Linked DNA regions of Homo sapiens. The protein of the gene in region 1 interacts with the protein of each later gene in a biochemical or structural test. Each region holds a gene or a part of one and is shown in the gene's direction. Other genes may lie near its edges. The genes, in order: NUP35, NUP205 and NUP155.

Region 1 (3,754 bases):
GATTAAGAAAAAAGATACAAAAATAAGTTTTCGACTCTTTTCAACATGTTTCTGAGTTAGGGTGCTAGTTATCACTGTTATTTTGTAAGTGCTCTAATATATGCATGGTTACGGTTTTATCACAATAATGATGAACTTTTTATGGGGAAGAAAAAGAAACAATTTAGCAAGCTTAACCCATTGTGTTTGATATGCTAAGCTTTGTATGTATAAGTAGTGCAGCCTGTCCTTGTTTTTGGTTGTTACATAGTCCAAACTGATTCGGAAATGGAAAGAAGTTATTAGTGTGATTTTTAAACCCCTGAAATAATGTAAACAAAAATAGCTGTCACAGATAAATATTGTGCTGCCAGGTGTACTGGCTTCACACCTTTAATCTCAGCACTTTGGGAGGCCAAGGCTGGTGGATCACCTGAGCTCAGGAGCTCCAGAGCAGTCTGGGCAGCATGGTGAAACCCCATTTCTGCAAAAAAATACAAAAATTAGCTGGGCGTGGTGGTGCAGGCCTGTAGACTTAGCTACTGAGAGGCTGAGGAGGGAGGATCGCTTGAGCCTAGGAGGTGAAGGTTGCAGTGAGCTGAGATTGCGCCACTGCACTCCAGCCTGGTGACAGAGTGAGACTCGGACTCAGAAAAAAAAAAAAAGTGAATACAAGATAACTTTACATTTTTCTAGAAATATTTTTTGTTGGCTTTTAAAATAATAAATTCAACTATGGTTCTATTATATCTAAAAGTTTTGATTAAATTTGCAAAATTATGTTAGATTCTTGCATGTTTTTGTCATCAACATGTAACAGAAACTGTAACAGAAAAGTCCTTAATTTATTTTTTGATTCATGTAGGATCTGAACCAATGATGCTGGGTTCACCCACATCTCCAAAGCCAGGAGTTAATGCCCAGTTCTTACCTGGATTTTTAATGGGGGATTTGCCAGCTCCGGTGACTCCACAACCTCGATCAATTAGTGGCCCTTCAGTAGGAGTAATGGAAATGAGATCACCTTTACTTGCAGGTAGGTGAATTGCTTAAAATAATTTTATAGACATGCTAGATACAGGGATGTCCAATTTTTTGGCTTCCCTGAACCACATTGGAAGAAGAATTGACTTGGGCCACACATAAAATACAGTAACTCTAATAATAGCTGATGAGCTAAAAAAAAAAAAAAATGCAAAAAAAATCTTAAAATGTTTTAAGAAAGTTTACCAATTTGTGTTGGGCAACATTCAAAGCCATCCTGGGCTTCATGCGGTGTTCAAGCCATGGGTGGGACAAGCTTGTGCTAGAATTTTTAAAAGTGTAGTGGTGCAGCATTCACCCTCATCAATACATTAATTAAAAAAAATTAAGCAATGTGTCTATTATAAAGCAAAGCTTTTAAGGCTCTTGGAATAGAGGTGTAAGAAGTATAAGCTATAATTTCTAGAGCCACTAAAATGTATTCTATGTTTTTTTCATTCTAAGATGCCTTTGAATTGGCTTTTAAGTACCACTAGGAAAGATAACCCTAAATATGACACAATGCTAAGATGCCATTTTTTGTAAAATTTCTGTGTCGGAGATGTCAGAGTGTGGTGGGGGAAGAGTGCCTCACAGAGTTGATGAAATACCATCATTTAGCTTCAACTGAATTCATTTAAAGTAATTCATCTTAAGATACAAGAATAGGAAATAATCGGTCAAAAGAAGTGTAACTTGAAGATGTAGATACGAATTCTGCCTTTAGTCTTAGTGAATTGAGATTCTCACATATAGCGTGTTTAAGGAAACTTGGGGGGGAGGTTTTATACACAGAATTTGTGATTGTCAGGGCAAAGTATTGTAAATGCAGCCTGTGTTTATTACAGAACTCCTTTAGCAAAGAAATACTTTAAAAAATGACTTCGAAGTTTTAACTGAGTAGTGAGAATTAGATACAGAAGTGTTGAATTCTAATTGTGAGCTAATATCCTTTAGTAGTAGTTCAAGTGAAAACTCTTTTTACCTTAATTGCCCTTTAAAGTATTTTTGCTTTAAAATGGTTTATTATTTAGGATTTATCAGGGAGAATTATAAATTATATTTGAAGTAATTCATTTAACATTAAACATTAAATTTCAAATGTGTTATTTTATTATGGTAGCCAACGTATATTGATTGCTTATGAGCCTGGCAGTATGCTAATCATTATTTTGTCAATCTTAAAGGGTAGGTAATAGTATCCCCATCTTTAAAAAGAGAAAACTGAGGCTAAATGCAATAAGTAATTTGCTGAAGCTCACTTGCTAGTAAGTGAGCGAGCGCTATAAACCTCAGGTTAGTCTTATTCCATAGACTGTGCTCTAAATAGCTTAAGCTGTACAGTCCAGGCTCAGACATTAGTCTTACCGATGGCCTGGGCTGCATCACTATTTGACATTGCATGTTCTCTGATCGATAAAGACATCTTTATGTCACAGAACTTGGTCCTTTTACTACATCTTTATTATGTACTTAAATATATTTCTACTGTGAGAAACATGAATGGGATCTACTTAATCTAGATAGTCAAACTCTACATAGGGAATTGTATTTATTCAGGAATCTACAGACTGGAGCTGTTTAGTACCTACTTTCAAGTGAGAAATGGGATCAAGTTTTGTATTTAAATGTTAAGCGTTTTGTAGAGTGAGCAAAAGTTACATGTGTTTTCTGAAAACTAAGATTTTCATTAACTACTTACTCTGAATCCTTTTATTCAGAGTGCAGTCTATGGATCAGCAGCATTGGCATTACCTGGGAGCTTATTAGAACTGTATAATCTCAGGCTTCACCCTACACCTTCTGAATCAGAGTCTGAATTTTAACAAGGTCCCCAGGTGACTGTTCAGCATATTAAAGTTTGAAAAGAACTAACAGACAAGATTTTAAGTCAGTATTTCAAAAATATAAATTTAAAAAATCTTACCAAAAAGAAGAATCCCTTTTTTTTTTTTTTTTTTTGTACACTGTAGGTGGGTCACCACCACAACCAGTTGTACCAGCTCATAAAGATAAAAGTGGCGCTCCACCAGTTAGAAGTATATATGATGACATTTCTAGCCCAGGACTTGGATCAACACCTTTAACTTCAAGAAGACAGGTAATATAAATACCCTTTTGATCCCCAATGAACAACATCATGGTTTTATGTGTCTGTTCAGTGAGAGTCAATACTTTGAAATGTTTCCCTGAAGTCTGTTTTAATGTAACTGTGTTGCACAGAATAAACATTAAACACATCATAGAATCTACTTAAATTGTGTTGATGATGAACTGTACTTAACAGTGTAGAACTCTAGATTTTCTCTCATAGGTAATTCTCAGGTGTTTATAGGTATGCCTTATCCACCTGCCCATAGCTCCAACCTACTTAATATACATGTAGAATGTGACTATGGTTTAAATCATTCTGATTGTTTAAGAAGTTTAATATTTAATATTTAAAAATTATGTGAAAGAACAAATGAAAATTTAGAGTTTCATCTAGATCTAGGGCACTCGTCAGCTGAGAAGTAGTATGGACTTGTCTTTATTTTCTTCTTTTTTTAGGGTCCCCAACAGGGTCCTGATCAGTTGCCCAGGCTAGAGTGCAGCGGCACAGTCATAACTCTGCAGCCTTGAACTCCTGGGTTCAACCAATCCTCCTGCCTCAACTGTCCTATTGGGATATAGGCACGTGCTGCTATGCCTGGCTAATTGTATTTTTTTTTGTAGAGATGAGGTCTTGCCGGATTCAGGTGATCCTTGCACC
Region 2 (3,754 bases), on another chromosome or scaffold:
GAATGGTGGTTGCCAGGGGCTGGGAAAGGGGAAAGTGGGGAGTTGTTTAGGGGGCATAGAGTTTCTGTTTTGCAAGATGAAAAAAGCTGTGAAGATCTGTTGCACAATGTGAATACACTGAACACTGCTGAACTGTACACTTAAAATTTGTTGAGATTGCATTCTATGTTATGTGCTTCCTTTAAATTACAGTTTTAAAAAATCAAACATCTTGGAGTTGTAAGGAAAAAATACAGAGATTGTAGAGTTCTAAGACCTATGGTTGGCCAGGTGTGGTGGCTTATGCCTGTAATCCCAGCACTTTGGGAGGCTGAAGTGGGCAGATCACCTGAAGTCAGGAGTTCGAGACCAGCCTGGCCAACATGGTGAAACCCTGTCTCTACAAAAATACAAAAATTAGCCTGGCATGATGGCAGGTGTCTGTAATCCCAGCTACTCGGGAGGCTGAGGCAGGAGAATTGCTTGAACCCAGGAGGAGGAGGTTGCAGTGAGCCGAGATCATACCACTGCACTCCAGCCTAGGCAACAGAGCGAGACTCTGTCTTAAAAACAAACAAACAAAAAACAAACAAAAAAACCTATGCTTGTATTTCAGCTGTATAACTTAACTAGTCTTGTGACCTGTATCAACCTGGCTGAGTACACTCACAGACTTGTGAATAAGCAACTATTAACACTGCTTGGCAGTCCTTCTGTGATAGTCTGGTCACCTCGTCCATTCACAGCAGTGACTACTTCAGACCTTTCTACACTCTTCAAATCTTTAACCTGCAACTAACTAAACCCTCAGACTTCTAGTCACAGAGAAAATAGGAGCCAACATACATGAACTCCCTTTATTCACTCTCAAACCTACAAACCTAGGTGTGTCTGCATTCTTTTGAATCACTTTTCCTCTGTCTTCCTATCTAATGTAAATCCCACCCATTGTGTTCTTCACCTGTTACCCCTTTTTTTGTCTTGTATATTCACTTCTCTCTCTTGCTCTTCCCTTTCTCTCCACTGATGATCTCATGCGTCACTCCACTTACTGTCCTCTTCCTAGTCAAGCCTTTCAAAAGATTTGTTAGTATTCATGGACTCCATCTCCTTCCTTCCTTTGTTCCTTCCTTCCTTCCCTCCTTCCTTCCTTCCTTCCTTCCCTCCCTCCCTCACTCTGCCCAGGCTGGAGTGCAGTGGTGCAGTCTCGGCTCACTGCAGTCTCCACCTCCCAAGTTTAAATGATTCTCCTGCCTCAGCCTAGTAGCTGGGATTACAGGCCTGAACTGCTATGCCCAGCCTACTGACTCCCTTTTCATACCTCCTATTCCTTCACCCATTCTGGTCTCTTCCATCCTTGTAAACAGCTCTCAATAGGGTTAACTTCTGTTTCTTGTAGTTCAGAAAGTTCCTTTTTAAAAAATTATTTTTTATTTTGAGACAGGGGCTCATTCTGTCGCCCAGACTGGAGTGCGGTGGTGTGATCTCAGCTCACTACAACCTCTGCCTCCCAGGTTCAAGAGATTCTCCTGCCTTAGCCTCCCTAAGTAGCTGGGATTACAGGCGCCCACCACCACACCTGGCTAATTTTTGTAATTTTAGTAGAGATGGGGTTTCACCACGTTGGCCAGGGGTGCCTCGAATTTCTGACCTCAAACGATTCACCTGCCTCGGCCTCCCAAAGTGCTGGGGTTATAGGCATGAGCAGAAAGTCCCCATGTTTTAAATCTTCATTTGGCTTGATCTTTTAGAGTAAAGACCAAAATCCTTTTTTTTTTTTTTTTTTTTTGAGACAGAGTCTGGCTCTGTTGCCAGGCTGGAGTGCAGTGGCGCGATCTTGGCTCACTGAAACCTCTGCCTCCCAAGTTCAAGCGATTCTCTTGCCTCAGCCTCCTGAGTAGCTGGGACTACAGGCGTGCGCCACCACACCCAGCTAATTTTTGTATTTTTAGTAGAGCAGGGTTTCACCGTGTTGGCCAGGATGGTCTTGATCTCCTGACCTCGTATCTGCCCGCCTCGGTATCCCAAAGTGCTGGGATTACAGGCCTGAGCCACCACACTCGGTCATCAAAATTCTTTAACGTGGGCAAGTGAGCCCTGTGTGATGATCTTGCCAAACCCGTTTTCTGTACTGCAGCTCTCTTGGCCTTTTGAGTTCTTTGACATGCCGCATTCCCTCTTGCCATGGAAACCCACAGGTTGTCCTCTCCCTGGAATGCATGTCTTCACCTCCCACCTGTCAGTTAACTATCACTTTTGTTCTTCAGATTTCAGCCTAGTTATCACTTCCTCATGGATAATTCTTTCCTCTGGCTAGGTCAGAGTCCCCTATTATGTGATCTCTTGCCCTGGCTACCTCTCCTTCATATCCTTCATATCCTGACCACAGTTGGATTTTATTTTATTTTTATTTATTTTTTTATTTTTTGAGATGGAGTCTTACTCTGTAGCCCAGGCTGGAGTGCAGTGGCGTGATCTCGGCTCACTGCAGCCTCCGCCTCCTGGGTTCAAGCGATTCTCCTGCCTCAGCCTCCCTAGCAGCTGGGACTACAGGCGCATGCCATCACGCCTGGCTAATTTTTTGTATTTTTGGTAGAGACGGGGTTTCGCTGTGTTGGCCAGGACGGTCTTGATCTCCTGACCTCGTGATGTGGCCCGCCTTGGCCTCTCAAAGTGGTGGGATTACAGGCGTGAGCCACTGTGCCCGGCCAGATTTTACATTTATGTATGATTATGATTAATGTTTTTCCTCACTGCAGTATAATCTTACCAATACCTCACACATGGTGAATGAGTGAGTAAATGTGATTTGCTGGAGGTATCCCTAAACATTAAGGAAAATAAATGTATTTCTCAACTGACTAAACTACATGGTAAAAATACATATTTAGTAATTTTGAAAAATTTATAGTGTCCCTTCATTTGTAATCAGTAAAAAAGATATTTACTGTAATCCTAGCACTTTAGGAGGCTGAGGAGGGAGGATCACTTGAGGCCAGGAGTTCAAGGCAAGCCTGGGCAACATAGCAACATCCCAGTTCTACAAAAAATACAAAAATTAGCCAGGTCTGGTGGTGCGCGTGCGCCTGTAATCCTAGCTACTAGAGAAGCTGAGGCAGGAGGTTGCTTGAGCCCAGGAGTTTGAGGCTGTAATGAGCTGTGATTGCCTCACTGCACTCCAGCCTGGGTGACAGCAAGACCCTGTCACAAAAAACAAACAAAAAAAAGGTGTTTACTGAAATTGGTCAAACTCAAGACAGATTGAAGATAACTCTTTGTTGCGGCTACCTTTGGTGTTTTTTTTTTCTTTTTCTTCTTTGAGACGAGGTTTCACTCTGTTGCCCACGCTGGAGTGCAGTGGCTCAGTCATGGCATACTACAGCCTCTACCCTCTGAGACTCAGGTGATCCTCCCACTTCAGCCTCATGAGTAGCTGAGACTATAGGCACAAGCCACCATGCCCAGCTATTTTTTTTTTTTTTTTTTTGAGACGGAGTCTTGCCCTGTCACCCAGGCTGGAGTGCAATGGCATGATCTCAGGTGACTGCAACCTCTGCCTCCTGGGTTCAAGCAATTCTCCTGCCCCGGCCTCCCAAGTAACTGGGATTACAGGTGTTAGCCACCATGCCCAGCTAATTTTTTTGTGTGTGTTTAGTAGAGACAGGGTTTCACCATGTTGGCCATGCTGGTCTTGAACTCCTGACCTTGTGATCTGCCCACCTCGGCCTCCCAAAGTGCTGGATTACAGGCATGAGTCACCACGCCCGGCCTGTTT
Region 3 (3,624 bases), on another chromosome or scaffold:
TTTGTCAGTTAAAGCCCTTGAGAATTGACATAGCTATATACCTGGTTGAGCAGGTGATAAAACTTGTAACTAATGTTGTGTCCTGAAAACCTACACAGGGAGGTACTGTTTTCCCTTAGTGTCTACCTGGCTGCTTGGCCTTGTGACTACTGATTCCATTAGAGCAGTGGTTCTCAAAGTATGTGCTCCAAACCAGAAGCATCAGCATCAGCATCAGCATCACCTAGGAATTTGTTAGAAATGCAAATTCTCGAGCCCCAACCCAGACCTACTGAATCAAAAACGTGGGGGATGAGGCCCTGCTTTCTATGTTTTAACAAGCTCTCCAGGAGATTTTGGTGCATGTCAAATTTGAAAGCCACTGCAGTAAAGGATACTGCTACCTTCCATAGTTTATGGACTGAGCTACCTATCTGGCTCCTCCTCTGTGAATAACCACACACACAAATTTTGCCCAAGGCACACAATATATAAAGCAAAACTGTTAGTAATGTACTTTTTAATTATTCCTTAACAAAATAGAATAACCAAACCAAATGCTTCAAAGTAATAGCAACAAGAGAGAAGAAGAGTGGGAATGACCAGAGCTAACAAAACACTCTATTCCTTTCTCTCTTTTTTTTTTTTTTGGAGACAGAATCTCACCCTGTAGCCCAGCCTGGAGTGCAGTGGTGCGATCCCGGCTCACTGCAACCTCTGCCTCACAGGTTTGAAGCAATTTGCCTGCCTCAGCCTCTCGAGTAGCTGGGATTGCAGGTGTGCGCCACCATACCCAGCTAATTTTTGTATTTTTAGTAGAGATGGGTTTCACCATGTTGGCCAGGCTGGTCTTGAACTCCTGACCTCAAGTGATCTGCCCGCCTCCACCTCCCAAAGTGTTGAGATTACAGACGTGAGCCAATGTGCCTGGCCTATTCCCTTCTCTCTTTATGCTACCACAAATAATTACCTTCTGTTTATTGTAAGTGATGCATGTCTAACAATTTGTACAATACATTTTGAATATATTTTTCCTTCCATTATTGTCTTTTCCCAAGACCATAGGGTTGCCTTCTCTACATTTGTTCTCTTAGAATTCAGCTCCCTTTTCCCTATAATCTTCTAATGTAGAATATTTAATAGAATGCCAGAACGTCACTCAGTGGGTACTACTACCTCTTATTTTTCAACTTTTCAGTTTCTTAAGTTTAGCGTTTTTTGAATATGTAAAGTGAATGTATGCGATACATTAATTCGTTTTATAAATTTAAAATTCTGTCATGTCTACTTAAAAGGAAGGCCTTGTCTGAATGTTGTAATTTAGGTGTGACTCCAGTTCTGCTAGAGATAAGAACTTCATTTTTGTTTTAAGCACATTTACATACTAGCAATATGTTGTTATATATACTCAGCTCACAACATTGAAAGTACATGTTTTAAAAGGGCTGTAGGCTTCCATGGTTAGATGGTCTGTTAGAGTCAGAAATCTGAACACTGTCCTTTTATTCACACAGCATGCTTTGAGAGGTTTTAGGAATTCCAGCCCCACAACAGATGCTTGCAATACCTTTTGGGGGGTAAGATTCCTAAGAGAGAAGAAATTAGGTCCCCTCATTTTTACCCTTGGAACAGTGTTTCTAAAACTTTCACATTCAGAACAATCAGCCGGATAGCCTGTTATGACAGATTCTTGAGTTCCATCTGTAGTGTCATGCTGATCCTGGCAGTCAGTGGATCAGAGTTGGAGTAGCATTTATCCACTGTATTAGTATACTTTGTACTTGGTGTTTGTTCAACGCATTACTTTTTTGAATTTTTTTGTTTTTTGAAGACAAGGGCTTGCCCTGGAGTGCAGTGGCATGATCTTGGCTCACTGCAGCCTCGAGCTCCTGGGCTCAACTCAGTCTTCCCACCTCATCCTCTTAAATAGCTGGGACTACAGGCACGTGCTGCTACACCCTGCTATTGTCTGTTTGTTTGTTTGAGACTGAGTTTTGCTCTTGTTGCCCAGGCTGGAGTGCAATGGCACAATCTTGGCTCACCACAGCCTTTTTTATGAGACTGAGTTTTGCTCTTGTTGCCCAGGCTGGAGTGCAATGGCACGATCTTGGCTCACCACAACCTCCACTTCCTGGGTTCAAGCAATTCTTCTGCCTCAGCCTCCCGAGTAGCTGAGATTACAGGCATGCGCCACCATGCCTGGCTAATTTTTTTTTTTTGTATTTTTAGTAGAGATGGGGTTTCACCGTGTTGGTCAGGCTGGTCTTGAACTCCTGACCTCAGGTGATCCACCCCCCTTGGCCTCCCAAAGAGCTGGGATTACAGGCATGAGCCACTGCGCCTAGCCCCACCCCCCCTACTTTTTTTTTTTTTTTTTTTTTAATTTTTTGTGTAGCCAAAAGATCTCACTCTGTTGCCCAGACTGCTCTCAAAACTCCTGGCCTTAAGTGATTCCCCTGCCTCAGTCTCCCAAAGTGCTGGGATTATAGGCATGAGCCACCATGCCTGTCCATTATTTCTTTATAGTGACTATTATATGTAGGCAATGTATAATTGGTAGAACATAGTCTATGAAACAGTGCGTTAATTGTGGGCAGTGAAGAATCATTGAAGTTGTGAAATTTGTATTTTAACTAGATCATTGTAGTATGGCAAAACGGTTAGGAAAGAGAAAGCTATCTTGACTAACTGTTTATGCTATGAGATACTGACTGATGTACATGTACATTTAGTGTTTCTTTAGGTATACCTGACTTATTCATTGAACACCTATCCACTGATCTCAAAAGTATTCCTCAGGGTAGTCTCCATTCCTGTCATTTTTCCTCCTATTCATGAGACGGAAAAATTATGACCATGGTACAGAGTTGTATCAAGGAAATGAAGAACTAGAACATTGAATTGAAAGGTTTTGAAAGGGTTCACAATTTCTTTTCATTTTCTATTAATGTCTTCTTTTAAATTCTCTTAAGAATAAAACTTTTTTCTAATATTTTAAGTCTTCCATTAAATCATTGAAACTCTTCTGAGCTTCGTTTTCCTCATATATAAATGAGATTGAAGCCAAATAATAAAACTTTAAAAATCAATCAAGGGCCAGGTGCAGTGTCTTACACCTGTAATCCCAGAACTTTGGGAGGCCAAGGCAGGTAGATCACCTGAGGTCAGGAGTTTGAGACCAGCCTGACCAACATGGTGAAACCCCGTCTCTACCAAAAATACAAAAAAGTTAGCCGGGTGTGGTGGTGGGTGCCTGTAGTCCCAGCTACTTGGGAGGCTGAGGCATGAGAATCACTTGAACCTTGGAGACAGAGGTGCAGTGAGCTGAAATCCCACACCACTGCACTCCAGCCTGGGCGACAGAGGAAGACTTGGTCTCAAAAACAAAACAAAATCAATTTACCATGTGGGATCCGGGATCCCCATGTATGTTTTCAACCCACATTAGAAATGACCCCCTAAAGCACCTCTGTCAAAACAACCAAACCTGAACTCATCCCTCTCTGCCCTCTGCCCACTCTTGCTGTTCTTCCTTGTTTTCTACCTCTTTATTGTCTCAAATAGAAAATATGAAAATCATTACATTGTCCTCCCTTCAAAACCAGTTTTTAAGCAAGTCTACTTGATATCCCCCATATCTGCCCA

What was found.
Region 2: the proteins of NUP35 (region 1) and NUP205 form a complex in vitro, tested with the Homo sapiens proteins (one study listed by BioGRID).
Region 3: the proteins of NUP35 (region 1) and NUP155 form a complex in vitro, tested with the Homo sapiens proteins (one study listed by BioGRID).

The regions. Positions count from the first base shown.
Region 1 is NC_000002.12:183,127,443-183,131,196, forward strand, and holds part of NUP35 (nucleoporin NUP35), read left to right. Parts: intron 1-844; coding exon 845-1,015; intron 1,016-2,975; coding exon 2,976-3,103; intron 3,104-3,552; exon of another isoform or gene 3,553-3,675; intron 3,676-3,754. UniProt on the Homo sapiens protein: Functions as a component of the nuclear pore complex (NPC).
Region 2 is NC_000007.14:135,560,799-135,564,552, forward strand, and holds part of NUP205 (nuclear pore complex protein Nup205), read left to right. Parts: intron 1-3,754. UniProt on the Homo sapiens protein: Plays a role in the nuclear pore complex (NPC) assembly and/or maintenance. May anchor NUP62 and other nucleoporins, but not NUP153 and TPR, to the NPC.
Region 3 is NC_000005.10:37,287,484-37,291,107, reverse strand, and holds the end of NUP155 (nuclear pore complex protein Nup155), read left to right. Parts: 3' UTR 1-2,971; downstream 2,972-3,624.